Linked DNA regions of Homo sapiens: regions 2, 3, 4, 5 and 6 are each reported to be linked to region 1. Evidence: microRNA targets listed by miRTarBase, many of them from high-throughput screens and not tested one by one. Region 1 holds a microRNA gene; each other region holds the end of a gene's coding sequence. Distances are between the middles of the regions.

What was found. The annotated mature microRNA hsa-miR-29b-3p reads UAGCACCAUUUGAAAUCAGUGUU and lies in region 1 at 1,962-1,984, shown strand. An mRNA with a match to its seed (bases 2 to 7 or 8) in the 3' UTR can be bound and repressed. Matches are read on the target gene's strand: a 7mer-m8 pairs with bases 2 to 8, a 7mer-A1 pairs with bases 2 to 7 and ends in A, and an 8mer does both.
Region 2: miRTarBase lists P3H1 as a target of hsa-miR-29b-3p. Seed matches in the 3' UTR shown: 8mer at 447-454.
Region 3: miRTarBase lists COL5A1 as a target of hsa-miR-29b-3p. Seed matches in the 3' UTR shown: 7mer-m8 at 1,308-1,314, 8mer at 1,348-1,355, 8mer at 1,682-1,689 and 7mer-m8 at 2,063-2,069.
Region 4: the mRNA of PDGFB is a reported target of hsa-miR-29b-3p. Seed matches in the 3' UTR shown: 7mer-m8 at 898-904.
Region 5: miRTarBase lists TET3 as a target of hsa-miR-29b-3p. Seed matches in the 3' UTR shown: 7mer-m8 at 501-507, 7mer-m8 at 1,518-1,524, 7mer-m8 at 1,532-1,538, 7mer-m8 at 1,549-1,555, 7mer-m8 at 1,919-1,925, 8mer at 3,697-3,704 and 5 more.
Region 6: miRTarBase lists ELAVL1 as a target of hsa-miR-29b-3p. Seed matches in the 3' UTR shown: 7mer-m8 at 3,825-3,831.

Annotation. Positions count from the first base shown.
Region 1 is chr1:207,799,348-207,804,433 of GRCh38, reverse strand. It overlaps MIR29B2 (microRNA 29b-2), which reads left to right and starts at 1,911; the gene lies at 1,911-1,991. MIR29B2CHG (MIR29B2 and MIR29C host gene) reads left to right here. Exons shown (of 6, transcript NR_135299.1): 6 at 1,772-2,916. It overlaps MIR29C (microRNA 29c), which reads left to right and starts at 2,495; the gene lies at 2,495-2,582. RefSeq lists an enhancer at 5,040-5,086.
Region 2 is chr1:42,741,913-42,746,998 of GRCh38, reverse strand. It overlaps P3H1 (prolyl 3-hydroxylase 1), which reads left to right. Exons shown (of 15, transcript NM_022356.4): 15 at 147-625. The coding sequence ends at 302. Among named protein-coding and RNA genes, the nearest start is that of CLDN19, 4.2 kb to the right of the region's middle. RefSeq lists a silencer at 1,615-1,815 and an enhancer at 4,804-5,086.
Region 3 is chr9:134,842,035-134,847,120 of GRCh38, forward strand. It overlaps COL5A1 (collagen type V alpha 1 chain), which reads left to right. Exons shown (of 66, transcript NM_000093.5): 66 at 123-2,809. The coding sequence ends at 269. All of the region lies in intron 1 of LOC101448202 (a long non-coding RNA gene), which reads right to left. Among named protein-coding and RNA genes, the nearest start is that of MIR3689C, 4.8 kb to the right of the region's middle. RefSeq lists enhancers at 105-939, 3,251-3,751.
Region 4 is chr22:39,221,022-39,226,107 of GRCh38, reverse strand. PDGFB (platelet derived growth factor subunit B) reads left to right here. Exons shown (of 7, transcript NM_002608.4): 6 at 261-413; 7 at 795-2,749. The coding sequence ends at 385. Among named protein-coding and RNA genes, the nearest start is that of PDGFB, 21 kb to the left of the region's middle.
Region 5 is chr2:74,101,729-74,106,728 of GRCh38, forward strand. TET3 (tet methylcytosine dioxygenase 3) reads left to right here. Exons shown (of 12, transcript NM_001287491.2): 12 at 1-5,000. The coding sequence ends at 448. Among named protein-coding and RNA genes, the nearest start is that of BOLA3, 44 kb to the right of the region's middle.
Region 6 is chr19:7,959,105-7,964,190 of GRCh38, reverse strand. It overlaps ELAVL1 (ELAV like RNA binding protein 1), which reads left to right. Exons shown (of 6, transcript NM_001419.3): 6 at 384-5,086. The coding sequence ends at 708. Among named protein-coding and RNA genes, the nearest start is that of TIMM44, 18 kb to the right of the region's middle.

The DNA.
Region 1 (5,086 bases):
GCTGGCGAGGACCACTTAACCTTCTAGCAAGGGCTGGACTCAGGGAGGCTTTCCTGAGCTGCGGGGAGGATGACAGGTTCCCTGGAGTGGTGGTGGGTGGGGGCGGGGCTGAGGGGTGGTAGCCAAGGGAGGGTGAAGGAGAGTATTCCAGAAGAGACAACAGCTTAGGCAGGCAGGACCTCGCCATGGAGGAAGGTGCTTTCTGATCACTGCGGGACACCTGTGTGATAGCTCATAGGGAGGGGGTACTGGTAACTAAAAGTTGATAAGGAAGAGTGGCTAAAATGAAAAGCAGAAAAGTGAGAATCTCATCAAATCCCCTCATTTGACAGGATTTGGACTCCCAGTAGTAACTGTCCTTAAACACTCACTCCTGACCTTACAACCCTGGCTGTTACCTGGTTAACAAGCCCCAGGTGTTGGCTACAGGTGTCATCACTGAGAGCCCTTGTGTGCAGATCTGCCCCAGCTCTCCCACCTGTGACTGAGGCTAGCAAGTCCCCCGTGGGCTGTAGAGCCTAGCGCTGGTGTCAGAATCGCTTGTTGCAGGTTCATCTTCAGTGTCTTTCCCACAGCCACATGCTGGGGAAAGACGGCAAAGGCGCTAGAGGAGCAGGAGAACAAAGCAAGCTGCCCCAGACCACCCGGCTTTCGCAGAACCCAGATGATGCTCCTGTCTCCCCCTAAGTATAACGTGTTATGTAGTCAGTATGATCCCATTCAGTGCAGAAGTATCGCCTAGGAATTTCCTGCCCCACCCACCCTGTTTTGTTCTTAATGAAGTTCAAGAACAAAATGAGATGATAGTCAAGTTATGGAGCAGGCTGCAGTGGATACAAGGGCAGAAACACAGTCTTTGGAGTTAGACCTGGGATCTGCATTGATTGGTTGTGTGACTGCAGACAAGTTATTTAGCCTCATTAAGGATGAATTTCTTCGCAAAAATTGGAATAATACCTGCCCCATACGACTGTTGTGAGAATTAAACACCGCAACTTTTGATGTTCAAATTCTATTTCTTCTCCTTCTAGCAACACATACTGTTAGTGCCAGGAACCATAAAAATTATAAGGCTGTATCTAGAGGCCTGAAAGGAAGCTAAAATATACAGTGTCTACTCTGTCTCTTTTCTCTTGGTTATGGTATCAGAGGAAATACACATATTTTCTTAGCTTCAAACCACCAAAAAAGATGATGCAGTAAGGAGATGGGAAATCTAATTTGGAATACAGTGTGCAAATCTTATTTTCAAGCAGACTTTGAAAATAAAACTCAATTCTTACGTTAGAGGATTATCTGCTTAATACAATTATAGGGTACCAGTTTTTGAAGTCACATCGGGGTTAAATAAGATTGCAGGTTCATGGGGTCATATTTGAATGTTCTGATACTTACATATGGGGTGGGAAGGAGGAATGCATGCTTTTCTCAAGTTAAGACACATAAAAGAGTTGTCCTGGCCCAGGTGAGACTCGCCTTTGTGTAGCAGCTGGAGCTTCATTCCACAGGCAGATAGGGTGCTTGTGTCCTGATGAAGTAAGAGAATATATCTGGAAACACTTTGTGTACTGTGAAATACTATACAAATGCAGGGCAGTACAAATGTAAATATTAATGTATTTTAGTAATAATTTTAGCTTTTATTTCATCATATATAATAATTTGTAGTGACTGGTGTGAAGTTAAATAGAATTAACCTAGAATTAATGAGTTTTGTATTGCTCTCATCTATTTGAAGCATCAGCTGTGCCTTTCATGTTGCCTTGTGCAGCCCTGTGTAACCTCCTCTGTGCCTTTCCCATGGAGCACTGTGTCATATCACAAGTAGAACTACAAGAAGATATTTCTCCTCAGGGCAGAGGCTGGGTCTTCCGATTGAATCTCCCTTCTTTCTTCATTGAGATCCTCTTCTTCTGGAAGCTGGTTTCACATGGTGGCTTAGATTTTTCCATCTTTGTATCTAGCACCATTTGAAATCAGTGTTTTAGGAGTAAGAATTGCAGCACAGCCAAGGGTGGACTGCAGAGGAACTGCTGCTCATGGAACTGGCTCCTCTCCTCTTGCCACTTGAGTCTGTTCGAGAAGTCCAGGGAAGAACTTGAAGAGCAAAATACACTCTTGAGTTTGTTGGGTTTTGGGAGAGGTGACAGTAGAGAAGGGGGTTGTGTTTAAAATAAACACAGTGGCTTGAGCAGGGGCAGAGGTTGTGATGCTATTTCTGTTGACTCCTAGCAGCCATCACCAGCATGAATGTGTTCGTAGGGCCTTTGAGTGTGGCGATTGTCATATTCTGTTGGATAACAATGTATTGGGTGTCGATTGTCATGGGGCAGGGGAGAGGGCAGTACACCTGGAGGACCATTTTGTCCACATCGACACCATCAGTCTGCTCTTAGAGGATGCCCTGGAGTATTCGGCGTTGATTGCGGGGCACCCGAAATCAGACTTGCCACCTGGACTGTCGAGGTGCAGACCCTGGGAGCACCACTGGCCCATCTCTTACACAGGCTGACCGATTTCTCCTGGTGTTCAGAGTCTGTTTTTGTCTAGCACCATTTGAAATCGGTTATGATGTAGGGGGAAAAGCAGCAGCCTCGAAGCCTCATGCCAACTCTGGGCAGCAGCAGCCTGTGGTTTCCTGGAAGATGGATGGGCAGAGAATAGGGAAGGAAGATCATGCTTTTCCCTACTAACTTCTGTAACTGCATGTATGATACATTATTGCAGAGGTAAGAGATAGTTTAATGGATTTTTAAAAACAAATTACTATAATTTATCTGATGTTCTCTAGTTGCATTTTGCTGAAATGTAGTGCTGTTCTAAATTCTGTAAATTGATTGCTGTTGAATTATCTTTCTGTTGAGAAGAGTCTATTCATGCATCCTGACCTTAATAAATACTATGTTCAGTTTATCATGTCTGTGTTTTTCATCTATTATTTCCCATTCATAATTCTGTGATGATAAGAAGTGGGTCCTGAAAAATTAATTGGCTGTGCAGATCTTGCCTACTTCATAAAGAATTTGAAGTAGGTTACAGCCAGCCAGACATTAAAAATGAAGCCCATTAAGAGAAGAATGAAATTCTATGAGCCAAGAAATAAAATGAGAGAAAAGATTAGGGAAGAGAAGAAATGTTGAAGATCAAGGCTGAGGGATGCTCCCTACTGAATGGGAAAACTCCTTAGTTCCACATGGGCTGTAGACACAGCCCTTCTGCCAGCAACTGTTCCTGCAAGGAACTGGTGCTCAACTAAACATACTGTCACATGGTTCCTTGAAGGGGCACAGCACTGATTTCACTTGCATTATAAAAGATTGAGTGGTGCTTTTGACTATTAGTTTATGTCAACACTTCAAAACAAGATGAGCCAGTTTTTTTTTGTTTTTTTTTTTTGTTTGTTTGTTTGTTTTAGACGGAGTCTCACCCTGTCACCCAGGCTGGAGTGCAATGGCACTGTCCCCGCTCACTGCAACCTCCGCCTCCCGGGTTCAAGCAATTCTGCCTCAGCCTTCCGAGTAGCTGGGATTACAGGCGTGGCACCTCCACGCCCAGCTAATTTCTGTATTTTGTAGTAGAGACGGGGTTTCATCATGTTGGCCAGGCTTGTCTCGAACTGCTGACCCCGTGATCCACCCACCTCAGCCTCCCAAAGTGCTGGGATTACAGGCGTGAACCACCTCGCCTGGCCCAGTGAGCCAGTTTTGTAAAGCTATTCAGAGATTAGCCAGATTTGATTTGATAGGGGATCAAGCTTGTAGGATCTTCAGGAAGGCGGGCTGTGGCCCCTTGATCAGGCTTTTTGCACAGGAGGTGCATGACTATGAACTACCCTCAGTAGAACTCTTTTAAGCCAGTGGCTTGCAATAAATGATGGCAAATCAGCCACCTAGGAAGCCATTTCTAAGCCCAACCCCCTGCCACAGTCTTCCTCTAGATGGCTGCCCTGCCCAGTGGGCTGAGAGTGGGGGGCGGAAGTAGCATTTGCTGGGAAGACTTGCCAGTACATATGTTGCACCCCCTCACTGCAGCTGCAGTGCTATTTCAGGCTGTTGATGGAAGAACCCATGTTCTAATCCCCAGGATGTGGTGGGAAGACCCTAAGTGGTGGTGTTAGTTAAGACCCTAAGTTATATTGTTTTGTTCACTTCCCACTGAGATAGGCTACAATAGTATTAAATACCTATAGGTCAGACATTTTTGGGGTCTGTTGTACTACCTACCAATTAAACAGTTTTTGATCCGCCCACCACGCTCAAAGCTCCAGCCTAGGTGTTGCAAATACAGACGACAGATTTTTGCTCTCAGGAGGCCCTGATTCCAGTCCTCAAACGAGTAAGTGTGAAATTGAGTGCAGCATTAAAGCACAAAAACAATGATTTGAGACGTCTTTTCTATAAAAGAAGTTTATAGCACTCTCATTGAATGCTTAAATAGTGCCACACTGCTAAGTCGTGAGAAGCAAAATGTAACTGCGGTGCCTCAAACAGGATTATTTTGTTTTATTCATTTGGATGCGGACAGCTCTTTATCTAAAATTGCCATTCTGAGGTGGTTTTGCACAATAAATTGGTAATTATGTAGACTGTTTCTTCCAGAGACAGCATCTTGAATCGGGTTTATGAAGCCATGCTATCAACCTAGGTAGAAAATGCTTTGTAGGACATGGGTCCTGCTTATCTAAATTTTACCAGATTTTATTAGCTGTAAATTTATAAGCGGGTCTTGGTGAATAGATAATGAAAAAAATATTGAGTGGGGAGGCTTATTAGACTGACAGCACCTTCAAGACTCATGCAAGTTGGACTGGAAAATCCCACCTGTGGAAGTAAAACACTGATGAGTCCTTAATAAATATGGATGAGACAAGTCAAATATTTGGCCAATTTAGGTGAAACAGAAATAAGTCTAGAACTGGACAATTATTTGTGTAACATACTGGCCCAGACCTTCACTTTGAGAAGCTGGTGTGTAGTTTCAGGAGAGTACCTGGCAGACTAGTGTGTCCATACTTCGATGGAGCTTGAGAGTTTTCCTTGAACACAAAAGTTGTATTTTTGAGTTTATTCTAGTATGATGGTGCCCT
Region 2 (5,086 bases), 170 Mb from region 1:
CTTTTCCAGAGAGTAGGACCTGCTGGGAAGGAGATGAGCCTGGGGCCATTAAGGAACCTTCCTTGTCCCCTGGGAAGTAGCAGCTGAGAGATAGCGAGTGTCTGGAGCGGAGGCCTCTCTGAATGGGCAGGGGTTTGTCCTTGCAGGACAGGGTGCAGGCAGATGACCTGGTGAAGATGCTCTTCAGCCCAGAAGAGATGGACCTCTCCCAGGAGCAGCCCCTGGATGCCCAGCAGGGCCCCCCCGAACCTGCACAAGAGTCTCTCTCAGGCAGTGAATCGAAGCCCAAGGATGAGCTATGACAGCGTCCAGGTCAGACGGATGGGTGACTAGACCCATGGAGAGGAACTCTTCTGCACTCTGAGCTGGCCAGCCCCTCGGGGCTGCAGAGCAGTGAGCCTACATCTGCCACTCAGCCGAGGGGACCCTGCTCACAGCCTTCTACATGGTGCTACTGCTCTTGGAGTGGACATGACCAGACACCGCACCCCCTGGATCTGGCTGAGGGCTCAGGACACAGGCCCAGCCACCCCCAGGGGCCTCCACAGGCCGCTGCATGACAGCGATACAGTACTTAAGTGTCTGTGTAGACAACCAAAGAATAAATGATTCATGGTTTTTTTTACTTGGTTTGTTCAGACAATGGAAATTTGCCCATTCTGTCCCAGAGGTCTCACTTGATAAAAATTGCTCTAGGCAGGACCCAGTGGCAGGTGTGGGACGAGAAGTCCTGGCTTGGCACCTGGCTCAACCACTTGCTGTGCAGCCACAGGCCAGACACTTAACCTTCAGCACCTCGGGGTTGTCATCTGTATAATGGGGATCATAGTCCTCCCTCTGCTCACCTTCTGGGGCAGCTGTATGGCCCAGATGCAATATCGGATGTGACAACACTTTTGTAAACGGTAAAGCTCTGGGTGAATGGTTGGGATTATTGTTAATCCTCTTCTGGCAGGGAGCGGCGGTCAGCAGTGCTCTGGCACGTCACCCCTATGTCAGCCACATGCTTCCTGCTCTGCCGTCTGGCCTCAGTGTCCTGTATCTCGGCCTCCCTGTGCAGGAAGACACACTCTAGGAAACACTGGAAATGGAGATTCAGCTCCTCTGGCTACATCCCTGGTACTAGGTCCAGAGCTTTTACTGTGCTTGAGATGCCACAGGGCGTTGAGTGTAGGAACCTGCACATGAGTGTTCACTTCTTCCATCAATCAATATGTATTTACTGAGCACCAGCTAAGTGCCTGGTGCTGGGAACGTGGCAGTGAACAAGTCCCCACCTTCATACAGCTTGTATTTTGTAGGAGAAACAGATAACACATGTAAATTGTGTGTGTGTGTGTGTGTGTGTGTGTGTGTGTGTAAAACCCTTAGAGGTAGAAAATAAAACAAGTCAGGGTCCAAGGTGGAGGAAAAACAAGGAAGCCAATGTGGCGGTGTAGATTGGTCAAGAAAGAGTATGGTGACATTAGCCAGGAGACGTGTCACGTGCCTGTAGTCCCAGCTGGACGCTGAGGCAGGAAGATCGCTTGAGCCTGGAAGTTCGAGGCTGCAGTGAGCTATGATCGCCCGACTGCACTCCAGCCTTCACAAGAAAGCAAGATCCCAACTCTAAAAACAAATAAAAAGGAAAGTGGTGGATTGTCAGGGGTGTCTGGGGGCCTATTTTTAAAGTAGAGCCAACAGGCATTGCTGATGGATTGGATGTGAGGTGTGAGAAAAGGCATCAAGAAGAAGCTAGGCCAGGCTCAGTAGCTCCGCTTGTAATCCCAGCAGTTTGGGAGGCGAAGGCCAGTGGATCACTTGAGTTCAGAAGTTTAAGACCAGCCTGGTCAACATAGGGTGACCCTATCTCTAAAAAAAACTTGAAAAGCCAGGCATGGTGATGCACACCTGTGGTCCCAATACTAAGGAGGCTGAGGTAGGAGGATCATGAGCCCAGGACGTCAAGCCTGCTCCATTGCACTCCAGCCTGAGTGACAGAGCAAGACCATGTCTCAAAGAAAGAACAAGGCTGGTCTTTGTGGCTCACGCCTGTAATCCCAGCACTTTGGGAGACTGAGGTGGGTGGCTCACCCAAGGTCAGGAGGTCGAGACCAGCCTGGCCAACATGGTGAAACCCGTCTCTACTAAAAATACAAAAATTAGCTGGGTGTGGTGGCAGGCGCCTGTAATCCCAGCTACTCGGGAGACTGAGGCGAGATAATCATTTGAACCCAGGAGGCGGAGGTTGCAGTGAGCCAAGATCACGCCATTGCACTCCAGCCTGGGCAACAAGAGTGACACTCCATCTCAAATAAATAAATAAGAACAAAAACAAAAATTTCAATTAAAAAGTTTATTGGGCTGAGCACAGTGGCACACACTTGTAATCCCAACACTTTGGGAGGCCAAGTCAGGAGATCACTTAAGCCCAGGAGTTCAAGACCAGCCTTGGCAACATTGGAAGACCGTATTGCTATTAAAAAAGAAAAATTGTTTTTTAGGAAACGATTATTTTTTGAGCTGGGAGATAGCACTGCGTGTTAGTTGGCTGGTGGGAATGATCCAGTCAAGACAGTCACTCCTCCTTTTATCATGGTTGATCCCCGCCATCCTATTTGGGTGGCTCACTCGGCGTACAGAGAGGACCACGTTAGTGCAAAAAGCATGAACTTTACCCACACACTGAGCTGGGTGACACTCCCACTTCCACCATGTGGAGTTGTGTGACCTCCAGCAAGTTAGGGAACCTGTATGTGTTTCCTCACCAGCGGAATGGAATCACAGTCCTTCCCGCGATGGTTGAGCGGATGAACAAGGGAATGCTCACAAAGCAACCAGCACGACACTTAGCCCATGGTAGACATCAACATTACAGAAGACTACATCAGCCTAATTCTGGTTTTCCAGAAGTTTCCACATCAAGGCAGATGACTTTACAGTTTCAACTTATGCTAAACAGATACAGGCAGCAGCCTCTTAACTGAGCTCACAAAAGGCCAGATGTTTTCAAGGCAGCAGGCCCAAGATAAGTGTATATAGAGTGGGGCGAGTCCTCCTGGAAGCATGGGGTGATGGCAGCCCGGCTGAGATGCGACTGTGATTTCGGTCTGCGTTTGGTAACGCACATGCAAGGGCGCGCGAGCAATGAGAGGATGACTGCTTGAGAAGAAAGGAGAGAGCCCATGGGAGGGTTGGAGGGGATGAAAGGCAACTCCTCAAACACAGTGAAGATTTGGATGTGGAAGACGCCGCTGGTCTCTGGCGCCCCAGGCATCTAGCAGAGCTCTCAGCAGGGGCATCAAGAGACAGATGCTGTACTCAGTGTGGTTAGCACAGGTAAATGGGACAGCCACATGTGTCACAGAGGCGCAGGGCCCGGGCGAGAGGGTGGAACACAAAAATGTGTCTGCTAACACAGTCTCAAGGTGCTCAGGGACCTTAGGAAGGAGGTAAACGACGCAATAAGTGCAGTGAATGGAAATATGCCAAGAGTATGATGGGATTGCAGATCAGGATGCTTAGCCGTGCCTGGGCAGGCAGAATCGTTGGGGGTGGCCACACAGCTGGCTGTATTGCTTTCTAGCTGTGCGCCCTGAGGCAAGTAGTCTCCATTCCAAGCTTATAGTTCCGGGAATCTCAGACTCTGAGTTGGGAGGGTGATAAGAACTCCAAAATTTCAAATGATGATTGCAGAGAAGGTGCTAGATTGCTAAAGACTGAATCGGACCCTCCTAACTGACAATGAGAGAGGGCGGTGGAAAGGTCTCCGATTTTTCACAGGGAGGGAGGCAAAAGCATTGAATCCTCATACCAATCAGTCAATGATCAACACATACCTAGCAAGGCTGGCTCTCGGTCAGGCACTGTTGCAGAGGAAGTGGCAGTGGGTCTTCAGCCACAGGCAGTCTGCCCACTCCCAGAGTGCGAAGGCTGGAGGGGCAGACTGTGCGGGGAGTCTTTTTGGAACAGAGCTTTCATTAGTCACAGTTCTGCAGGCGTTTTATGCTTTCAAACAGCCTTTCTCACCTATCATCTGATCCTTGTAAACTCCCTCATGCATCAGACAGGGCAAGTGTTATTATCCCTACTTTTCAATGGAGAAACCAGGCCCAGGGAAGCTGAGGATTTGGCTAATGTCCCATAGCTTTTCAGTGGCAGGGGTAAAGCTAGAACTGTAGGCTTCTCATAGCCTGAGTGAAAGCACAGGGTGCTGTGCTACCCCAGGGCAGTTTCAGTGAGCTCTTAATGGAGGCTGGGCTGTGACCCTGAGCCTTCCTGTTCTCCCCGCATGTCTGGGAGTCATTGGACTGCAAGGGGGGGCACCAGGAGTGGTAGGTGTCCTGGGTGGAGAAGCTGTGCCAGGTTAAGGAATGCCGCTCCAGAAGCAGAATCTGAATTCCAAAAGGCTTTGGAACAAGAATGAGGGAAGGCCGTCAGGGTAGGAGAGAATATTTTGGTAGAACAGACTCAAAGCCTCAAATAACAAAGAGAAGGGATAAACAGAAGCACTTCAGAGGAAGAGGAGAGCACTGTTCCGGATCACGAAGAGGCTCTGGGAACACCCAGGATGGAGGAGCATGCAGGCCTCCTGCTGGCTCTGTGGCCCTGTGGACCCGTGGCTCCCTTTCTCTCTTTGGCCCTCAAATTGTCAATGGAGGGGGCCGCAGCCCATGGTCTCTGAGGCATGCTTCTGACTGGCCTCTGGGCTCCTGACCCAGGTCCCCCTGAAACCAGAATGACCCCTGGATCTTCCCTACAGAGAGAGCGCCTGCAGATGGCGGGGAAAAGGGGCCAAGGCCCAGCGTGGAGAGAAGGAGGACTTTGCCTTTGGAGGAGCATATGCGGAGCAGCTACCCAGCACCAGGCCCCTGCCCTCCCCAGACATCGCTTACTTTAACGGACCACCACAACTCCATGAAGCAAACCTCCCATTTAGAGTGAGGACCCTGAGGCACCACAGTCATTCAGGTCACCCCTGGGGAGCATCTTGTCACTGCCCGCAGCCCCCTTCAATCTGGACCTGGTGCCTCCCTCAAAAAGGGAGGAGTGTGGGAGAGAGACCACAGGGGCCAGCACCACACAGTTTCAAGCGGAAAGCCCTTCC
Region 3 (5,086 bases), not on the chromosome of region 1:
CTGGGTAGGAGACAGGACACCAGCCTGGGTTTTGGAGCCAGACAGATTGTGGGGGGTGATTGGTAAACCCCAAGACCCCCAACTGTTCTTAACCACCGGCCATCTGTCTCCCTCTTCCCCAGACCAAGAAAGGCTACCAGAAGACGGTTCTGGAGATCGACACCCCCAAAGTGGAGCAGGTGCCCATCGTGGACATCATGTTCAATGACTTCGGTGAAGCGTCACAGAAATTTGGATTTGAAGTGGGGCCGGCTTGCTTCATGGGCTAGGAGCCGCCGAGCCCGGGCTCCCGAGAGCAACCTCGTGACCTCAGCATGCCATTCGTTCGTGAGTGTCCCGTGCACGTCCTGACCCTGGACAGTGAAGGCTTCTCCCTCCCCTCCCACCTGACTTCATCTACGCCTCGGCACCACGGGGTGTGGGACCCCAGCCCGGAGAGAACAGAGGGAAGGAGCCGCGCCCCCACCTGGAGCTGAATCACATGACCTAGCTGCACCCCAGCGCCTGGGCCCGCCCCACGCTCTGTCCACACCCACGCGCCCCGGGAGCGGGGCCATGCCTCCAGCCCCCCAGCTCGCCCGACCCATCCTGTTCGTGAATAGGTCTCAGGGGTTGGGGGAGGGACTGCCAGATTTGGACACTATATTTTTTTCTAAATTCAACTTGAAGATGTGTATTTCCCCTGACCTTCAAAAAATGTTCCAAGGTAAGCCTCGTAAAGGTCATCCCACCATCACCAAAGCCTCCGTTTTTAACAACCTCCAACACGATCCATTTAGAGGCCAAATGTCATTCTGCAGGTGCCTTCCCGATGGATTAAAGGTGCTTATGTTTTTGTGAGTTTTAAGTAAATATTTGTATTGTATTGTTATAAATGTTAAGTGTGCCTGGCTTTCAATCATGCACGGAAACCCAGTCTCAGTCCCACGGACAGAATGGGCGAGGCATGGATTCTGGGTTGCAGTACCGTTCTGATTAGAAATAGGAAGTCTCCCCACCCCCGCCCTGGCCAAGAACGTGCAATAAATTGGAAGTTTGCCCCGGGGCAGCAAGAATTTATGCTGCCATTGAAAAGCAGGTACCAGTGCCCCTTTTCAGACAGTTTTTGATTCGCTCTAGACTTTTTTTTTTTTTAATAGGGAAAAAATTTGATAATTTTCTTTTTTCTACATGCACTTAAGACTAAAACACAGGTTTGGATTAATTTTATTTGCTTCCTTTTTCCGCTTTTCTTCCCGCAGAGCCTGATGGGAGAATGTCCAGGGCAGGGAAACCACATTTTTTGTAGGTGATAACTCAATGAAAATTGGTGCTTATTTTTTACACTTCTCTCTTGTGGCTCTCTTGTGGTGCTATCTATCTGTTTTAAGGTCTCCTTGAAGGCGCACTGGGGACCCTGGCCATGCCTCGTTCTCCCTGCTTTCTTTATCCTGTTATTGCCTCCACAGTCTGTTGCCAAGGACTCTAAGATCAATGCACGTCACTTTCCTTTCCACTGGGCAGGATAGCCAAGCACACTCCCTCCTGCGCTCTCCCGCCCCGGTGCGTCCACTCCCGAGGGCTGTTATGAGGACTGGGTTGTGCCTACTTGATTTGAAAACACACACAAGCAATAAAAAGCCTCTTCCTGCATTGTCTGTGGTGTGACCATAGCAGATTATATTTGGTTCCTGAATGTTTGTGGTGCTAATTTCTGTGTTTGTTCCAAGCCGTTCAGTCATGCCATGCGCTGCCTCGGTAGATGGAGTAATGTACAATGAACTCCATGAGTCTCTCCAGGGCTGCCTGCAGCACGTCTTTTCCAAGTAGCCTATTTGGATTCCCATCTCAAATGTCCTGGATGCGAGCGTCAGCGGCTCCAGAGCTCGGGGCGGGTGAGGTCCCCTTTGGGGAACCCTTTCCTGGCCATCGAGGTCGGGGGGCTGCCGTCTGTGGGCAGGAGGACCCGAGGGGCAGCCAGGAAAGGCGATCTCTTCACTGTGAAAAGTTGCCCGGGTGCAGCGCCTTTTCCTTCTACCATGGGAAATGCAGGCTGGGCCCTTGGGGTGAGCCTGCGGGGCTCTGGTGCTGTCCCCGACCCCCACCACCACCAGAATGCAGTTCCAGCTTAGGAAGCCACAAACAAGCCACCCAGGAGGAACAAAACACCGCCAGCGTGGATTTTCCAAATTTCCCTGGAAAGTAAGTCTCGCTCTTGCCAAAGAAAAGTCTGGCTTGGAGAGTCTCTGGAGCCCAGGATGCCAGCATGTGCCAATGACTGTCACCTTCATCTCTTCAAAAGAAAAGCCATAGCCGAGGACTGTCCCGCGACCCCCGTGGACTGCGTCTAGGTCATGTGATTCTGTTTTCATTTCTCATCCCATCCAATTTGTCCTTTTCTCCTGTCATTTTCTTCCTCTGTGGTCCCTTCAAAGTTGTTATAATTTGTACTGAACTTCAAAATGTGTCCCGTTCTCCCCAGACCACTCTAGCCACAGTATATTGCAATAAAATTACTTCTTATATTTGCAGAAATTCTTTTGGTGTAATTTTATTTTTTCCTCTCAATATATATAATTGGACAAACGCTGGCAAAAAGAAAAAAATGGTAAGCAAAAAACCCAAGATAAAGTTTCGAGGACATCAGGCCTTTTGAAATACAATGTCAAATGACACATTGTACGGTTTCAAAAAATCCGCTAGACATGTCATAAGTTTTAACTGTAATGCCCAGGAAAGGATATCTTAAAATATTCTAAACTTGTGTAACAAAGGAATAATTAACTGTAATAGTTTTTCAATAAATCGAGTTGGGTGTTTCCACCGTAAACAGATGTGAGTGACTCTCTTCTTAAGTGTGGCCAGGCCCCTCCCAGACAGGACTGCACACAGTCCCAGGACGCTAGGAGCTCTGGAGATAACCACACTGGCCACCCAGAGAAAGGAAGGGATGGCCCCGGCTGTCCTTAGGTGGAGCTTGTCCCTCAGGAGTGGCCAAGGCTGGCATGGACAGCTTTGTGCCCTTGGGAGGATGTTAGAACGTAACCGGGCACTAGCCCGAGAAGTGAGTTTCAGCCACTGCTGGGTGTCCACACCACCGTGTACTGTCCTCACTCTTCACTCCTGGCAGTCAGCACCCTGCGAGAATGTTCTTGAAGCTCTCCAGCACTGCCCTTCCAGCTGTGTAGCAGGATTAGACTCCCTAGCTCCTTGTGGCTAGAGGTCGGGGAAGGCACGGGGCTCGTTGCAGCCGATGACCTTGAGCCCACGTGGCATTCGCCTCTTCCGGTCTGAAGGTGTGGTTCCCTCGGGCACAGCACCAGCCATGTTTCGTGGAGGGGCTACGTCACCAGCAGGTTCCCTGAGTGAGCCCCCTGCCAGCTTGTGAGAACTGGTAGCAGGAGCAGGAGAAGCACATTTTTGTTTTATTAAAGCCACTGATGTCAGGGACTGTTGATTACTCTGCCGAATAACCTAGGCCAGTGGGTCTCCAGCAGGGTCCGGGGAATGGCAGCAATGGCACCACCTTGTTAGAAGTGCCAGTCCCTGAGCCCCATCCCAGACCTGCTGGCCCAAATGTTGTGGGAGAGCTGAATCATCTGAAAGCAGGTCTCTGAGCAACTCTGCTGCACGTTCAAGCCGGAGAGCCAGTAACCTAGGTGATCCGGAATTGTGTAGGTGCTTAAGGACGAGGCGACTTTCACAACAGAAGGGTGGTCTGCAGCATTGCCCAGGGAAGCTGGGGCCATTGTGAGAGGATGGGAGGCTGTTGACCCATGTCATCCACAGGCAGAACATTGGGTACAATTGTTTGATCACTGTGATAGCTCAGAGGTAGATTATGAACTCATAACTTGCAACCCTTGGGGAGGAGGCTTGACATGAAATGATGGTGGGCAGGCTGGATGCCTGAATTCCATGTGGCAAGGTACCACGTGGCAGACCAGCTCTGGAAAGAGCCAGGAATGAAAGGAAACGGCCCACGAATCAAGGATGCGCAGAGTTGGAAGAGGCAACCGTTTCCCAACATCAACTGTTTAAAGACCACATTGAGAGACGCCTTGAGGGACAAACGCCAGTTAAAACTCAGTCGTCATGAATTTGAGCAGCCCACCCCTTTCTTAAAATCCTGGAGTAGATTAGGATGGCGCCTAATAAATGCATTTGAGTTGGGAAAGCGACTCCGGCAATGGACGCTCACAGTCGTCAAAGGTTGATGGGTCTGAAGGTCCTTGCCATCGAATCCAGAAGAGGAGAGAGAGCAAGGCAGGTGGGCGGACAGTCGGCGTGGTGCCTGCTGGTGGAGCGGCCAGAAATGCACAGGTGGGCAGCTGATCTGTCCTCCGGAGAGGCATCCTGCAGAGGGGCCCCAGCCTGGTCTGGAGGAGTCAGTGGCTCAGACTCACAATGACCCTTTGACCATCCCAGGCAGCAGGAGGCTTGAGGTCCACTCGGCCGGTGGCTGAGCCATGGCACAGTTGTGGCCCAGAGTTGTGGGACTCCCCTCGCACCCGTCATGCAAGGGGACTCCCACGATTTCTCGGGGTTGTAGGTGACAGCTCTGGGAAGTTTCCTGGGGAGAAGGAACCCTGGAGGGAGGGTGCATGCCCCCAGTCTGCCTTCCTTGCCTTCCTCCTCCCACTGGCCCCAAGGAGTTCTGCCACCACATCCATTCATTCATCTGTTCATCCATCCATTCATCTATCCATCCATTCACCCTTTCATCCATTCATCTATCTATCCATTCATCTATTCATCATTTATCCATCCATTCATCCATCCATCCATCCATTCATCCATTCACCCTTTCATTCATCCATTCATTCATCCATTCATCCATCTATTAATCTATTCATCATTTATCCATCCATCCATCCACACATTCGTTCACCCTTTCATTCATCTGTTCATCCATTCATTCATTCATCCATCCATTCATCCATCTATTCATCATTTATCTGTCCATCCATCTATCCATCCATTCATCTATCCATCCATCCATCTATTCATCATTTATCCATCCATCCATCCATCCATCCATCCATCCATCCATCCACTCTTTCATTCATCCATTCATTCCCCCATTCCTTCAGTGGCAGTTCATTGA
Region 4 (5,086 bases), not on the chromosome of region 1:
CCACCAGTTCTATGAGGTGGGCAGTCTTATTACCCCCATTCCACAGATGGAGGCGCCAAGGCTCAGAGAGTTTCAGTCATTGTCCCCAAGGCACATACAGCTGGTGAGCAGTGGAGTTGGGATCCAAACCCAGGACCCTGGTCCAGATTCCCCTCCTGTCCCTTTCCTGAGCCCAGAAGGTCCATGGCAGGCCTTGGTCAGTGGGGAGAGACCTCCCCAATGGTCCACATGCTGACGAGGTCTTTCTTTTTCTTGTGCAGCCAAAACGCCCCAAACTCGGGTGACCATTCGGACGGTGCGAGTCCGCCGGCCCCCCAAGGGCAAGCACCGGAAATTCAAGCACACGCATGACAAGACGGCACTGAAGGAGACCCTTGGAGCCTAGGGGCATCGGCAGGAGAGTGTGTGGGCAGGTGAGGGCCAGGCGGGGCAACTGAGGCCCAGAATCCTGTGTTTTCTTCTCTGTGGTCTGTGGATGGGGTCAGGGGAAAGGATTTTTCCATAGAAAATCCAGCCTCTGAGCCTTGGTCCTCCCTGTCCAGTTATCAGCTGGGGCAGGGTGGGTGGTGGGCTTTGGAGACCCCAGCCCAGCTGTGTCCCAGCATGCCCTAAGAGGATGGGAGGTCTAAATCTCAATCTTCCCAGCCCCTCAATGCCCCCAGCCCTGAGCATTGCTGGAAATCAGGGGTGGCTAGTTGACCCCAGCTCCCTGCCCCTGGCATCGGGGACATATGAACATGGGATGGACCCTCTAGGCTGTCTCTGACCCCTGTGTCTCTCTGCTTGGCCTGCAGGGTTATTTAATATGGTATTTGCTGTATTGCCCCCATGGGGTCCTTGGAGTGATAATATTGTTTCCCTCGTCCGTCTGTCTCGATGCCTGATTCGGACGGCCAATGGTGCTTCCCCCACCCCTCCACGTGTCCGTCCACCCTTCCATCAGCGGGTCTCCTCCCAGCGGCCTCCGGCGTCTTGCCCAGCAGCTCAAGAAGAAAAAGAAGGACTGAACTCCATCGCCATCTTCTTCCCTTAACTCCAAGAACTTGGGATAAGAGTGTGAGAGAGACTGATGGGGTCGCTCTTTGGGGGAAACGGGCTCCTTCCCCTGCACCTGGCCTGGGCCACACCTGAGCGCTGTGGACTGTCCTGAGGAGCCCTGAGGACCTCTCAGCATAGCCTGCCTGATCCCTGAACCCCTGGCCAGCTCTGAGGGGAGGCACCTCCAGGCAGGCCAGGCTGCCTCGGACTCCATGGCTAAGACCACAGACGGGCACACAGACTGGAGAAAACCCCTCCCACGGTGCCCAAACACCAGTCACCTCGTCTCCCTGGTGCCTCTGTGCACAGTGGCTTCTTTTCGTTTTCGTTTTGAAGACGTGGACTCCTCTTGGTGGGTGTGGCCAGCACACCAAGTGGCTGGGTGCCCTCTCAGGTGGGTTAGAGATGGAGTTTGCTGTTGAGGTGGCTGTAGATGGTGACCTGGGTATCCCCTGCCTCCTGCCACCCCTTCCTCCCCACACTCCACTCTGATTCACCTCTTCCTCTGGTTCCTTTCATCTCTCTACCTCCACCCTGCATTTTCCTCTTGTCCTGGCCCTTCAGTCTGCTCCACCAAGGGGCTCTTGAACCCCTTATTAAGGCCCCAGATGATCCCAGTCACTCCTCTCTAGGGCAGAAGACTAGAGGCCAGGGCAGCAAGGGACCTGCTCATCATATTCCAACCCAGCCACGACTGCCATGTAAGGTTGTGCAGGGTGTGTACTGCACAAGGACATTGTATGCAGGGAGCACTGTTCACATCATAGATAAAGCTGATTTGTATATTTATTATGACAATTTCTGGCAGATGTAGGTAAAGAGGAAAAGGATCCTTTTCCTAATTCACACAAAGACTCCTTGTGGACTGGCTGTGCCCCTGATGCAGCCTGTGGCTTGGAGTGGCCAAATAGGAGGGAGACTGTGGTAGGGGCAGGGAGGCAACACTGCTGTCCACATGACCTCCATTTCCCAAAGTCCTCTGCTCCAGCAACTGCCCTTCCAGGTGGGTGTGGGACACCTGGGAGAAGGTCTCCAAGGGAGGGTGCAGCCCTCTTGCCCGCACCCCTCCCTGCTTGCACACTTCCCCATCTTTGATCCTTCTGAGCTCCACCTCTGGTGGCTCCTCCTAGGAAACCAGCTCGTGGGCTGGGAATGGGGGAGAGAAGGGAAAAGATCCCCAAGACCCCCTGGGGTGGGATCTGAGCTCCCACCTCCCTTCCCACCTACTGCACTTTCCCCCTTCCCGCCTTCCAAAACCTGCTTCCTTCAGTTTGTAAAGTCGGTGATTATATTTTTGGGGGCTTTCCTTTTATTTTTTAAATGTAAAATTTATTTATATTCCGTATTTAAAGTTGTAAAAAAAAATAACCACAAAACAAAACCAAATGAATCCGCCGGAGGTCTGTCTGTTGGCATCGTGCGTGACAATTAACCTTTCTGCCTTGGCAGGATGTGCCGACAGCTTGCGGCGTGTTCCTCTCACTCTGGGAGCCTCAGGCGTGATCTCACACACTGGCGTGCACATACACACACACACACATACATGCTCACACATGCGTGCACATACACGCAGGCCTGCAACTTGGGGGAGGCCTCTGTCTGGCGGGAAGAAGAGACACACAGGCTACTCTGTTGGTCTTGGTCCTGGCACAGCTCCTGACACGTGGACTTGTGCGTGTCTCTGGCAGTGACGAGAGATGGGTTTCTGCAGCCTGAGGGTCTCCATAGAGGAAGTGGATCCTCAGCATCGTGGGGTGGGCTGGATGTGGGGAGGGAGTGCCCACTGTGGGGAACACTGAAGGAAGTCCCAGAGGGGATGTGGGATTTAGAAGGAAACAGTGGAAAGCCGGGTCTGCGGTCTGGTCTTGGCTTAGCCCTTAGCCAGCTGTGTGGCCTTGGGCAAGTCACAGACCCACTCTGGCCAGAGAGGATGAGGAAAGGTGCGTGGGCTCCAAGCTCCTGTGTTCTGCGCTTTCTCTTGCTCATGAAGACTTGGGTACCAGCCCATAAAAAAGAGGCTAAATGTATTCTAGGTCCCACCTGCAGCGTGGACTGGGGCTGAGAGGGACCCAGAAGCTAAAGATCTGGCTCATAAGGGCAATCTAAAACTAAAACCATTTTGCCACCTGAAGTAGTGAGCTCCCTGTCACTGGAAGTGTGTAAGCGAAAACTGGGGAACAATGTGGCTGAGGTTAGACTGAATAACATTTGGGCTCCCAGCAATTGATTGATCAATGGACTGATTCATTCCTTCACTCACTCACTTTCTTGAACCTCTGACATGTGCCTGTCACGGCCAGGAGATTTTATAGTCATTTGATTTGAATTCATCCTGGGGTTCCTAGCCCTGCCCTTGAGGAAGTAGAGTCTACCCATGGTGGTAGTGGGCCGTGCACATCAGAGGGATCTGTTTACCTGGCAGCTCCTACCCCTGCCTGCCCAATCGTGACTGGGGCCTTCCCTTCTCCCCTAAATCCCCAGTGTTCTCAGTTTCCAGGGCACAGGAGAAGGATCTGGCTGGGAGGAGGAAGAGACAACTCCACCAGGAGACGGACATCAGAAGTCAGCTGGAGAGCCCAGTGCGTGCAGCATCCTGGCAGCTACCAACAGCTGGTCTGTGCCATGGATTGCTGCAGGCACTTCCGAGGCCTGGGTGCCCATTTCCTGGGTGCCATCCCATACAGCAGCGCAGCAGAGTCCGTGGGCCTTCCAGGGGCCCGGTGGGCTTTTTCAAGGTCTTAATGTTGCCAGGCTAAAATGGCATTCTTCCAGAAACCCCTTTGCTGGAGAGAAAGCATTCTTTTCTTCATGCCTTTCCACTGCACTGTTGGCTGTAATACAGATGTGATGTCTGGTGCTCAAGCAGCCATGTTGAGCCATGAGGTGAAAGCCACATGCTGAGGATTATGGAGCAAGATGGAAGGCAGGGTCCCCAATACCTGGGCTGCCTTGTTCAGGAGCTTTCACGGAAGAAAGAAACTTCTTTCTGTTTGAGCTACTCTGGTTTTGGGTTTTCTGTCCCTTGCAACTGAACCTAATCCTAATAGCCCCGTTTACTTTGGGAGAGAGAGAACATGGCTGCTGGGCTGGTCCTTTTCTCTCCTACCCTCCTCAGGCACTCAGCTTCACCTTGCGAACTCTTAGGAACTCTCCTCTGTTCACTCAGATCCTCATTTCCCCAAGGTGTCTTCTTGGTCCCGGCCCTCAGCCTTCAACCAGAGCGTGGAGCTGTAGCTTTCTTTGGACAGCAATTTTTGCTTTTGTAAAATAATAAAATGTGAAACATTTACTGCTACTAAAGTAAACTATCCGTGAGCTCCTAGTACACATAAGACCGTTTTTGAGGGATGAAGGAGATAACAGACAGGACAGGGACAGCACGCAGGCTTAGGGAGGGCACGCAGGCTTAGGGAGAGCATGCAGCTGCTGGTGGCTAGGTCCAAGCTCCACCCTTTCCTCCTCTGCTGACACCATGTCTGGTGTGTTTCCAGTATTTTAAAGTGTCAGCTCAGGAACCCCAGAACCCCAACACCTGTCCATGTACTTGGGTGACAGCCTTGACCCGGCCACATTGTTACTGATGATCCTGGGGAAGTCCCTGCTTCTCCCCAATCTCAGAGGAGCTGTGACTCACCCCTATGCTGCCTTCAGGCATCCATGCAAGTGACACCCATCCTGTCCCACCTGCCCCTGCCCCAAGCCCCCCTTTCTCACTCTGCTCTGTTGATCTCTGTAGCATCTGGCCTCATCTGGCTCACTCCACGTGTATATCTCTCCTCATCTCCCTTCTCCACTCCCCATGGAAACTCCACCTGGAGTTACCTTGTTCACTACTCTGTCCTCAGAGCCTAGAACAGTGCCTCGTACCTAGTAGGCACTCGACCAGCCTGTCAAATGAAGCAACATACAAATCTGTTATTGGAGCAATCAAGTATGTTGGCTCCAAGTCACAGCCTGCCTGGCTGGTCTTCATCACACACACTATGGTGTGGCTGGAAAATGCAAGACTCTGAGTGTGTCACTACAGATAAAATATTTCAACTTCTTG
Region 5 (5,000 bases), not on the chromosome of region 1:
GGACGAGAACATCGGCGGCGTGGCCGTGGCCCCAGCCCACGGCTCCATCCTCATCGAGTGTGCCCGGCGGGAGCTGCACGCCACCACGCCGCTTAAGAAGCCCAACCGCTGCCACCCCACCCGCATCTCGCTGGTCTTCTACCAGCACAAGAACCTCAACCAGCCCAACCACGGGCTGGCCCTCTGGGAAGCCAAGATGAAGCAGCTGGCGGAGAGGGCACGGGCACGGCAGGAGGAGGCTGCCCGGCTGGGCCTGGGCCAGCAGGAGGCCAAGCTCTACGGGAAGAAGCGCAAGTGGGGGGGCACTGTGGTTGCTGAGCCCCAGCAGAAAGAGAAGAAGGGGGTCGTCCCCACCCGGCAGGCACTGGCTGTGCCCACAGACTCGGCGGTCACCGTGTCCTCCTATGCCTACACGAAGGTCACTGGCCCCTACAGCCGCTGGATCTAGGTGCCAGGGAGCCAGCGTACCTCAGCGTCGGGCCTGGCCCGAGCTGTCTCTGTGGTGCTTTTGCCCTCATACCTGGGGGCGGGTTGGGGGTGCAGAAGTCTTTTTATCTCTATATACATATATAGATGCGCATATCATATATATGTATTTATGGTCCAAACCTCAGAACTGACCCGCCCCTCCCTTACCCCCACTTCCCCAGCACTTTGAAGAAGAAACTACGGCTGTCGGGTGATTTTTCCGTGATCTTAATATTTATATCTCCAAGTTGTCCCCCCCCCTTGTCTGGGGGGTTTTTATTTTTATTTTCTCTTTGTTTTTAAAACTCTATCCTTGTATATCACAATAATGGAAAGAAAGTTTATAGTATCCTTTCACAAAGGAGTAGTTTTAAATTCCATTTAAAATGTGTATTTATTGGATTTTTTAAAAGCGACAATAGTAATGGTAAAGGATGGGCAGGAAAGGCCAGTAGTGCTCCCCCGCCCAGTCTCGCTGGGTCTGGCGAGCCAAGCCCCTCGGGCGCTGGCGAGGTCCTCAGCCATCTGCCCCTCGAGAGCCAAGCGCGGACGGTAGCCACCCAGTTCATCCCTCCCGACATACACCCCTTCCCTTTGGGGAAGGGAGCCTCAGGACAGCTTCTGTCCTCTCTGATAGGATGGGAGAGTCTGCAGAAAACCATCTGGGGTCCCTTTTCCAGTCCCCGGCTTGGAGTCGAAGGGCAGATGCACCCCAGGCCAGCCCCACGAGATGCTGGCATAGCTTTCCCCAGAAACCAGGTTGGAAGTAGATGGCTTCAAGCTTGCTAGTCTCCACACTGAATCCTCTGTCCGTTATTTATGGAGTCACACGATGTCATGGTTCACTAGGCAGCACCTCACGCTGGAGCTGGAGTGCGAGGTTCTTAGGGGCCGTGCCCACCATGTTGCCAAGCCAATGCATGCTGAGCTGAAGGAATTTGTCTTAGTGGCAGTTTTTTAAAAAATGCCCCCAAAGTCTATGCTGATACTGAAAAAGGGCTACTGTATCTTTAAAAACAGGAAGTTGAACCCAAGCTGTGAAAAGCCAGTGGTGCTCTGTGCATGGTGCTGTGCGGAGCCTGGTGCTGTAGTGTTGTGCTGGGACTTTCTTGACTCTTGGGCAGGTCACATCCTACAGGAGCTCAGCAGACCAGTGTAACAACAGTTAATGCATCTATCCTGATCCCTGAATTTCCACATTGGACAATGGTGCATGCCTCACACCTGAGCCTGCTTCCTCCATGCTGTCATTGGGTTCGGGGGCCTACACTTAACAATTTTAAAGTGCAAGAGTCAAACATTTTCAACAGGTTGCTATAATTTTCCTCCCTAATTGGTGCCATTTCTCCATTTGATCATTTTCTTTTTTTCCTTTCTCCCCTCTTCATCCACTTTAATATAGCTGTTCTGAAATTCTGGTGCATTCATTCGGTTCTTTGAAATGAGAATGTGGTGCTTAATTTTTGTGACGTTGTCGAGAGAGGTTGGGCCTGATGGGAGCAACACTCATCATCACCAAGTCAAACTTTGTTGGAGTGTTGGTTTTTCTTGTGATATTAGCAGAAATGATCTCATGCTAGCCATGTGGATGTGTGTGTGGTGAATGGGGGGCTTCATCAGGACACACAGAGGGGAATGTGGCCACACGGTGGATGACCACCAAGCCCTGAGATGAACAGGTATTTACTGAGCAGTTGTATTCAGATATGGGTCTTCATGAATCATGTTTAACAATCAGATGACCGCTATAGGCAAGTTCCTGAGCTTCCGGGTGCCTTGAGTAAGAGCTGAGAACCGGCCTGCTGGGTGTTTACTGTATCTGTTTGGAAGCACTGGCGGAGGGTCGTTGTAAGATGTCCTGAGCATTTATGTGGTCTGGTTTTAACTGTAAATAGTGAAAGATTTTTTTAAGCACTTTTGCCTAGATTTAAACAGCAACTTGAAAAAAAAAGTATGTTTTAACATGTAATTGTGGGAGAAATTGTAAATAGTAGCCGAATATTTAATGTGCTTTGTCTATCCTCCACTTTTACCATATTCTGTAAAGTTGCATTTATTTTACAGGACAAAAAAATGAAATATTATTGCTTTTGAAATAAATACCCAAGAGCTTATCAGGACTTAGAATTATTCAGAACTCAGATTTATAGGAAAACCTCTGACCTTCAGTTTGACAAGCTAAAGGAAGCAGAGTCTTTAATGAGCATGCTAATTTTCTAGTTTTGAGGAAAAATTGGGTCCTTTAAATGCTATTTTGCTTATCGCATCAGTACTTTTATGCAGGTCTCATTTGACTCCGTGCTTAGGTAGATGCGGGGGTGCCTTGAAAACTTCATTTTAAATGATCTTAAGCAAGAAATACAATATTTTACGAAACATTTGGAGAATGTGACCGTCTGTATGACCCGTGGAAGCCCCAGGTTGGCTGTTGGTTTGGAAGGTCCCGAGTGTAACCCAGGTGATTCTGATACTTGGCATGTGTGAATCTTCCTGATGTATGTTAAATAAACTCTTCCCCTCATCACCCTTTGGTAGGAAAGCCATTAGATGAAAGGAGAAACCAATACAAGCTAAAAGCATGCGACGTCTGTCCCCCAGCCCAAACAGCCTTGGTTCATCAGTTTCTGCAGTAGGAGATAGGCTGCTGAGAGGTGAGTCAAGAGGCAGTCTCCATTGGATGTCCCCACTCCCCGCAGAATGGCGTTTCCAGAGTTAGGCGGTGTGGTTGCCGTGCTCAAGCCCATGCTGATTTGTACACTACATGTCTAACCTACCTCAAATCTCAGTCATTAAAATTAGCATGCTTTAGACATATATTTAAAAAGTAACTATGCACAGCTCTTTATCCCCCCCTTGCTGCTGAAGCTTTCTTAAAGAGAAAAATCAAATTTTTATTTTTTACTGGCACTATCATTTTTTAAGTCCTAAAGATGATTAACAGACATTTTTATCATGAGAAGAAAAATAAAGCCATTGCAACTAAAGAACCTAACAGCATGACCAAGTTCGAAGAGTCATATTATAGCAACGGAAATCGATGGCGTCTTAGTCATCTCCCCAGTGTGCCCTGTCCACGGACACCATCCACGTGCAGTGCAAACATTTGGTTCCTTTTCTGCTCTGTTTTGTTTTCCCTGCCTGTTGCGTGCAAGGGAAGTGCTTGTAAAGTTCTGTGCTACGAGATTTTTAAAATAAAAATCGCTTCGCAGCAGGTTCTCACAAAATAACTGGTGCTAGCTCAAGAAATCATCATCTGACCATCAGAAATCTTGACTAAAGGTGTTGCATGGATTTGGGGGTCTTTCGGTTTTTGGTTTTGGGTCTGGCTTTTAGCAGGGCCAATGTTTCCCACACCCCGGCTTCATGGGTACTGCTTTGCCTTCTCACCAAGGTGACGATGGTGTGCGTGGAAAGAGATGATACCCCACCGCCCCCTCTTGGTCCTTCCACCAGCCTCTTTTGGGAACAGTAGTTTGCAGAGCAAGGGATTTTTAAAGCGCTAAAGCAAGGAAAGAAGTAGCAGAGCTTAACTGCTTTGTACCACACAGCAGTAGATGTGCAAGGACGGTTGACAATGAGTCGATGATAACCTAATTTCATTGAGAGAAACCCAGCCAGACTTGCTTCTAGAGGTTTAATCACCATGAGATCTCAAACCAAGGCAAAGCTGGTGGAAAACTATATGATATCCCTGACGTGCCTCAACCAGTATCTCTTTCCTTTTGTTACTGAAGTGTGTTTTATGGACTAGGAAGCATTTTTATGAATTGAAATAGTCTAAATAAAATGGTGCTATGGTGTTTTAATGTGACTGTCCCTGATCCTGTCTTGCTGAGGTGCTATCAACGTTCTGAAACCACAACCAACCAAAAACAAGGTGGGCTCCAGTCTCTTGGCTTTTTTTTTTCCCTCCCCTCTTTTGGTGCTGTCTTAGACCCGTTTACCGTGCTATAATCTGCTCTGAGCAGTGTTGTGTTGTGTTGTATTGTTCTTCCCTTGGTGGCCAAACAAAGCAAGTCGAGAAGGCAGCTATCTCCCTTTCTGTGATCGGGAGTGGGCCTGCCTGGCTTGGCAGGTGCTTTTTGGTTCCACACCTGTCTTCTCAGGCTTGATGTGAAAGAAAGGGCGAAGGGTTTTTTGAGTTTTTGTTTTTGAGGAAGGGGAGTTGGGTACTTCTGCCTCTCCTAGCATGATAGGCATTCTCATAGCCAGGGACAGATTTTCTCCTGCAGCCCAGGGTGCTAAGCAGACATCTCTGGGAGTCCCAAGGGCACACCAAGGGAGACCAGATGGATCTCCTTCCTCCCCTGGCACTGGCTGGGACCATGGTGGGCAGGGGCTTCATTCTCTGACCCAGCGTTGCTTCTGCCTCTCATTGGTAACCCCTTATGTTCGGACTAAAGGAAGGAGCTTTCTTTGCTCACTCGATGCCACTGAGGCTGCTTTTTAGTTGGTGCTAACCTAAATTTCTTCTTGGGTCCACAGAAGTTGATGTTTTAAAAACTCACCAGGAAGCTCCATTTTGTGTCATC
Region 6 (5,086 bases), not on the chromosome of region 1:
TCCTCCAGGGAGAACTGAGGCTGTCAGAGGCCTGCAGAGCATTTCTACCTTCAACGGAGGACCAGGAGAAGCGCCCATCATCTAAAATGTGGGGAACCGCAGGAACCCCTAAACAGAAACCCCGACATACACAGTGGGAGGAGTGGAGGGCACCAACCAGCCCCTCAGAGTCAGCTCCCTACAGAACAGGGTCCCGCCCCTCCACTACTGTATTTAATTCCTCCCAGGGTTTTGACCCATGCAGGTGTCTCAACCGTGAGCACCTCGTGGCTGCGCAGAGCGGGATGGGGCCCAGCGGCCATGGTCAGCATGCGTCCAGGCCTTGCCCCATCCCCAGGCCGCCTGCGCTGACCGTGGCCTGACGCTTGCTCTCTGTCTGCCAGGTTCTCCCCCATGGGCGTCGATCACATGAGCGGGCTCTCTGGCGTCAACGTGCCAGGAAACGCCTCCTCCGGCTGGTGCATTTTCATCTACAACCTGGGGCAGGATGCCGACGAGGGGATCCTCTGGCAGATGTTTGGGCCGTTTGGTGCCGTCACCAATGTGAAAGTGATCCGCGACTTCAACACCAACAAGTGCAAAGGGTTTGGCTTTGTGACCATGACAAACTATGAAGAAGCCGCGATGGCCATAGCCAGCCTGAACGGCTACCGCCTGGGGGACAAAATCTTACAGGTTTCCTTCAAAACCAACAAGTCCCACAAATAACTCGCTCATGCTTTTTTTTGTACGGAATAGATAATTAAGAGTGAAGGAGTTGAAACTTTTCTTGTTAGTGTACAACTCATTTTGCGCCAATTTTCACAAGTGTTTGTCTTTGTCTGAATGAGAAGTGAGAAGGTTTTTATACTCTGGGATGCAACCGACATGTTCAAATGTTTGAAATCCCACAATGTTAGACCAATCTTAAGTTTCGTAAGTTATTTCCTTTAAGATATATATTAAACAGAAATCTAAGTAGAACTGCATTGACTAACCAGTCCCTCTGGATGGTGGTGAACCTGAAGCATGCTTTAACCTCTAAGACTGTCTAACACGCGTTTCATTCAATGTCTCCACAGACTGGGTAGCAAAAAAATCACCTTTTAGTTTTAGTTTTTAATCTAAAGATGTTAGACAGATGCTGAGTGTGCGTTTTCTCAACCGCTTCAACATTGTAAGCGATGTATGCTTTGGTTGACAGGAAGTTCCTTTTCCAGGCAGGTCCCGTTGCCACCTCCTGCTCACTCAGTCCCGGGCTCTGCCGAGTGGTCCTGGGAATGGCGGCGGGCCCGTCCAGCGTGGGCCACCACTGGGGCCGGGGGCCACGGGCTGCATGCTGGGCGGGCCCTCCAGAGAAGGACACAAACGTGTTTCGTAAGCCCAGGCACCAATGGGAATGGACCAAAGAGTTTCAGGGAAACTCCAGTATATTCCAGAGTCAGATCTAAGCTCCAGGCACGCCTGAAGATGTGTTGCTACTCTGACATCCCGAGTTTCTGTCCACACATTGCATGCACAGCGCCCCACACATTGGATACTGTTGTTCACGATAATTTCTCCCGTTTTCCAGAGCATTTAACATAGCTTGGAGGCGTAAAATGGCTCTGTATTTTAATAACACAGAAACATTTGAGCATTGTATTTCTCGCATCCCTTCTCGTGAGCGCTTAGACCTTTTTCTATTTTAGTCGGATTTTGTTTTGGAATTTTGCTTTTGTATGAACACTCAGCAGAAAAGTACTTACTTCTTGCCAGTTATCTATTAACCAAAACCTTTGATTTGTAGTTTTAAAGATTAACCCTCAAAGTTCTCTTCATAACTGCCTTGACATTTTGGGTTGTTCTGTTCTGTTAATTTTCTTTTGCTTTTTTGTGTTTTTTGTTTGTTTTTACTTTTGCATTTAAGACCATTAAATTTGATTTTGTTTTGCTCGAATTTTGTTTTGTTTTTTATTTTACCTTTTCTTTCTTTTTGGCTAGGGAAGGTGCAGGTGGCCCAGCATTCAGGGAGGAGTCGTAAGATCTTAAGAAACCAATCCTTGCCTCAAGCAAAAGCATTTCTGAATCTGTGACGCAAGAATGTGCAGTTACAGGCTGGTGGCTTTTAAACCAGGAGCCCGGAGGAAGGGTGAAAGAGAAAGCCTGTGAAATAGGCAGGGCCAGATCACCCAAAACTCCTCAGGACTGGGATCTGGCGTTTATAAATAACTAGTTTACAGAGAGAATCACAAACAGGATAACTTAGTACCAGCAGTTTTTAACCTTGACGTGAGACTAAAACGTGACCGTAGGCTGTTTTTTAGTTATTGCTCTCATGAGATGATGGCTGTATTTATCTGTTTATTTATACCTATTTATGTATTTATTTATTGAAGTGTGAAATTGAGCAATAGGCAGGCACCACCGTCCCCAGAGCAGGTCAGCGTCTCGAGAGGCCCCTGGACAATTGAGGATGCCCATCCCCTCCCCTTTCCCTGATCTTTTACTGAGGGGCTGTGTGCGCGATCCTTGCAAATTGATGATGTTGCCATCCGTACCCAGGCTGTGTCTCATAAAAGTCGGCCTGGTGCCAGAGAGGACCTCCTTTCTCCCACAGAATCCCAGATCCTCAGGAAAAGCCAAAACCGAGGCCCATTGCCCGGATTCGACACAAAAGAGGGTCCCTGCTCTGTTGCCCGAGAGCAGTCTGCATCCTGGGACCAGAATGCTTTCCTGGAAAAAGAAGCCTTTCAGGTTTCCCTGGGCCAGCATCTTCTGATGGAAGGTGGGAGCCAACACCCTTCTGATGGAAGGTGGGAGCCAACACCCTTCTGATGGAAGGTGGGAGCCAACACCCTTCTGATGGAAGGTGGGAGCCAACACCCTTCTGATGGAAGGTGGGAGCCAACACCCTTCTGATGGAAGGCGGGATTCCCGCTTCTGAAACTCCCCCTGGAGTCTCACTCCCACACATGCCCATAGCTAGCATTCAACAGAGAACTCTGTCTTAAGCTTCAACTGTGAAAATGATGACGGGCTTGTAGCACCTCAGCTTCTTTCCTCGCCCCCTTTTATCTGAATCCTATCAATTATTCTGATGCTGGGACAGGTGAGAAGAAACTGTGAAGTATATGAGCCTTTGAAAGTTCCCTGAAGTTTCTCAGTTCAGGAACATTCTCATTGTATGTGGTCTCCGCTGTTTGAACAGCCTTCTAGCTAAAAAATTCCAAAGCCTTTATTTGGGAGTCTTAGCTTGCAAGCTTGTGGAAGGATTTAGCTTAACAACTGTCACTCCTGAAAAGCAATCTCTGTTCCATCAAGGTTCTAGTTGCTGGCCCTGTGTCCTCAAAGTTCATTACATCTTATCAAGGCCTGTTTGCAAAGGGGAGATCCCTTTTCTTAAAAAAGGCTCAACCCAAAAGAAACCATTTCTTAAAAAATTTTACATAGATCAGTTGTATTTCTATTTAGCAAAAATGAGTGCTCTGCTTTTATTTGGGAATTTCGATGAAAAAGCGTTCAGAGTAGATAATGTTCATTTATCAAAAATCTGGTTTGGGAAATACCAAAGAGGCTTTGATTGAATTCCCTTTTGACCCGTGTGTAACTTCCTCTGGTAGTTAGACCCCAGGCAGCTCCGAATTTGTGAACCTGCTTCCTGATGAATTCTCCCTTGTTCCCCCTTGGCTCTGCCATTATTTCGTTTTCAGTGTAATTTGCCAAGCCGCAGTTTTCTGTGCTGGCTGTGCCTCTAGTCGCAGCTCTGTGACTGATTCCCTCCCGGGTGCTGAGTCCCCTCCCCGGCCACCATCCTGCGTGAATATCCTGAAATTCATGGGCTTCCTCGGGGGCCCGCCCGCAGGTGGTGCTGGGTGGGTTCCGCCACCTTCTCCTGGAAGGTGAGCCTTTTCCTGGCCAAGGGCAGCTGCCTTAACCTCTGAGAGTCTGCGCTTGGCCTTAGTCCTGGAGACCCAGCCTCCAGGGACTGAACCGTGCTGCTGTTGGGAGCCAAGACCGGCCCTTTGGAGCCGGCAGCCCAGGGGTCCCTGCTGGATCAGAGAAATAGAAGCACCCGAAGACGGTTAGTGGCAATTCCTTGACCCGGTTTGCTTCCAAATGAAGGCCATTTGTCCACCAGGCATTGAAAAGACATGACTTACCCAGTCCGGCATCGGACTTGAAAAATCGAAATTGACATCACTCAGCTGTTACATTTCACATCCGATTCAGCCCCCTTTTATTTCCATGTGCTTTTCGCAGCCTTCCTGTGTTGGATGAAAGAGAATAAGAATTCAGCTGACAGGAGGCCTCTATCCTGTCCCTCCACCCCACCCTCCACCTCAATCCCCTCCCATCTTCCCCAGACCTACCTCACCTACTAGGACCTGAGGCAGCTCCTTAGCAGAGACCCCTGGGGTTTAGCTGACTCTGGGGGTCAGGGGTTCCTGTCCCCAAACTTCGCAAGACAGCCCTGAAGTCACAAGTGCTTTCTTTTAAGTGGCATTGGCAATTGGCGTGTAATGATGGCAGTAGAATCTGAATCTCGGATCCCAGGCAGGGTTCACATTTCCAAACCTTTTTGATTTCCCCTGACCTCTAATGGCTGGATCCTATTTTTCTACAACCTTTCAGTGACATCGTTCAGGTTTCTTTCTTGGCCATTTAAAAAAACAAATTTTTTTTTTCTCACTTGTAAGTCACCGCCAGTACCTAAGTTAGGCTAACGGAGACTTTGACAGGACTGGATTTTTCTTCCACCAGAAGAGAAGCCTTTTCCGTTGGTTTGGGGCCACCTCTTTGACCATGACCATGTGATGTTCCGTTTACAGTGACTTGCTTTGGGGGAGGGGAGGCTCTCTTAACCGATTCCCATGTTGTACAGTAGATGGTTAGACCTTTTGTATATTAGTGTGTTTTAAGTTATTGATTTGTTTTATATAAAATAATTTATTTTTCAGGTGCCATTTTTCATTTTAACTTTGTTTTTACATGGGTTTGTTTTCAATAAAGTCTGACACTGGTGTCCAAAAGTCAACAATAAAATGAATCCCATTGTGTTCTTTTGAAGATGCCTATGTAACTTTTAAGCTTTTTAAATTATTTTCAGAAAAAAAAAAAGAAAAGC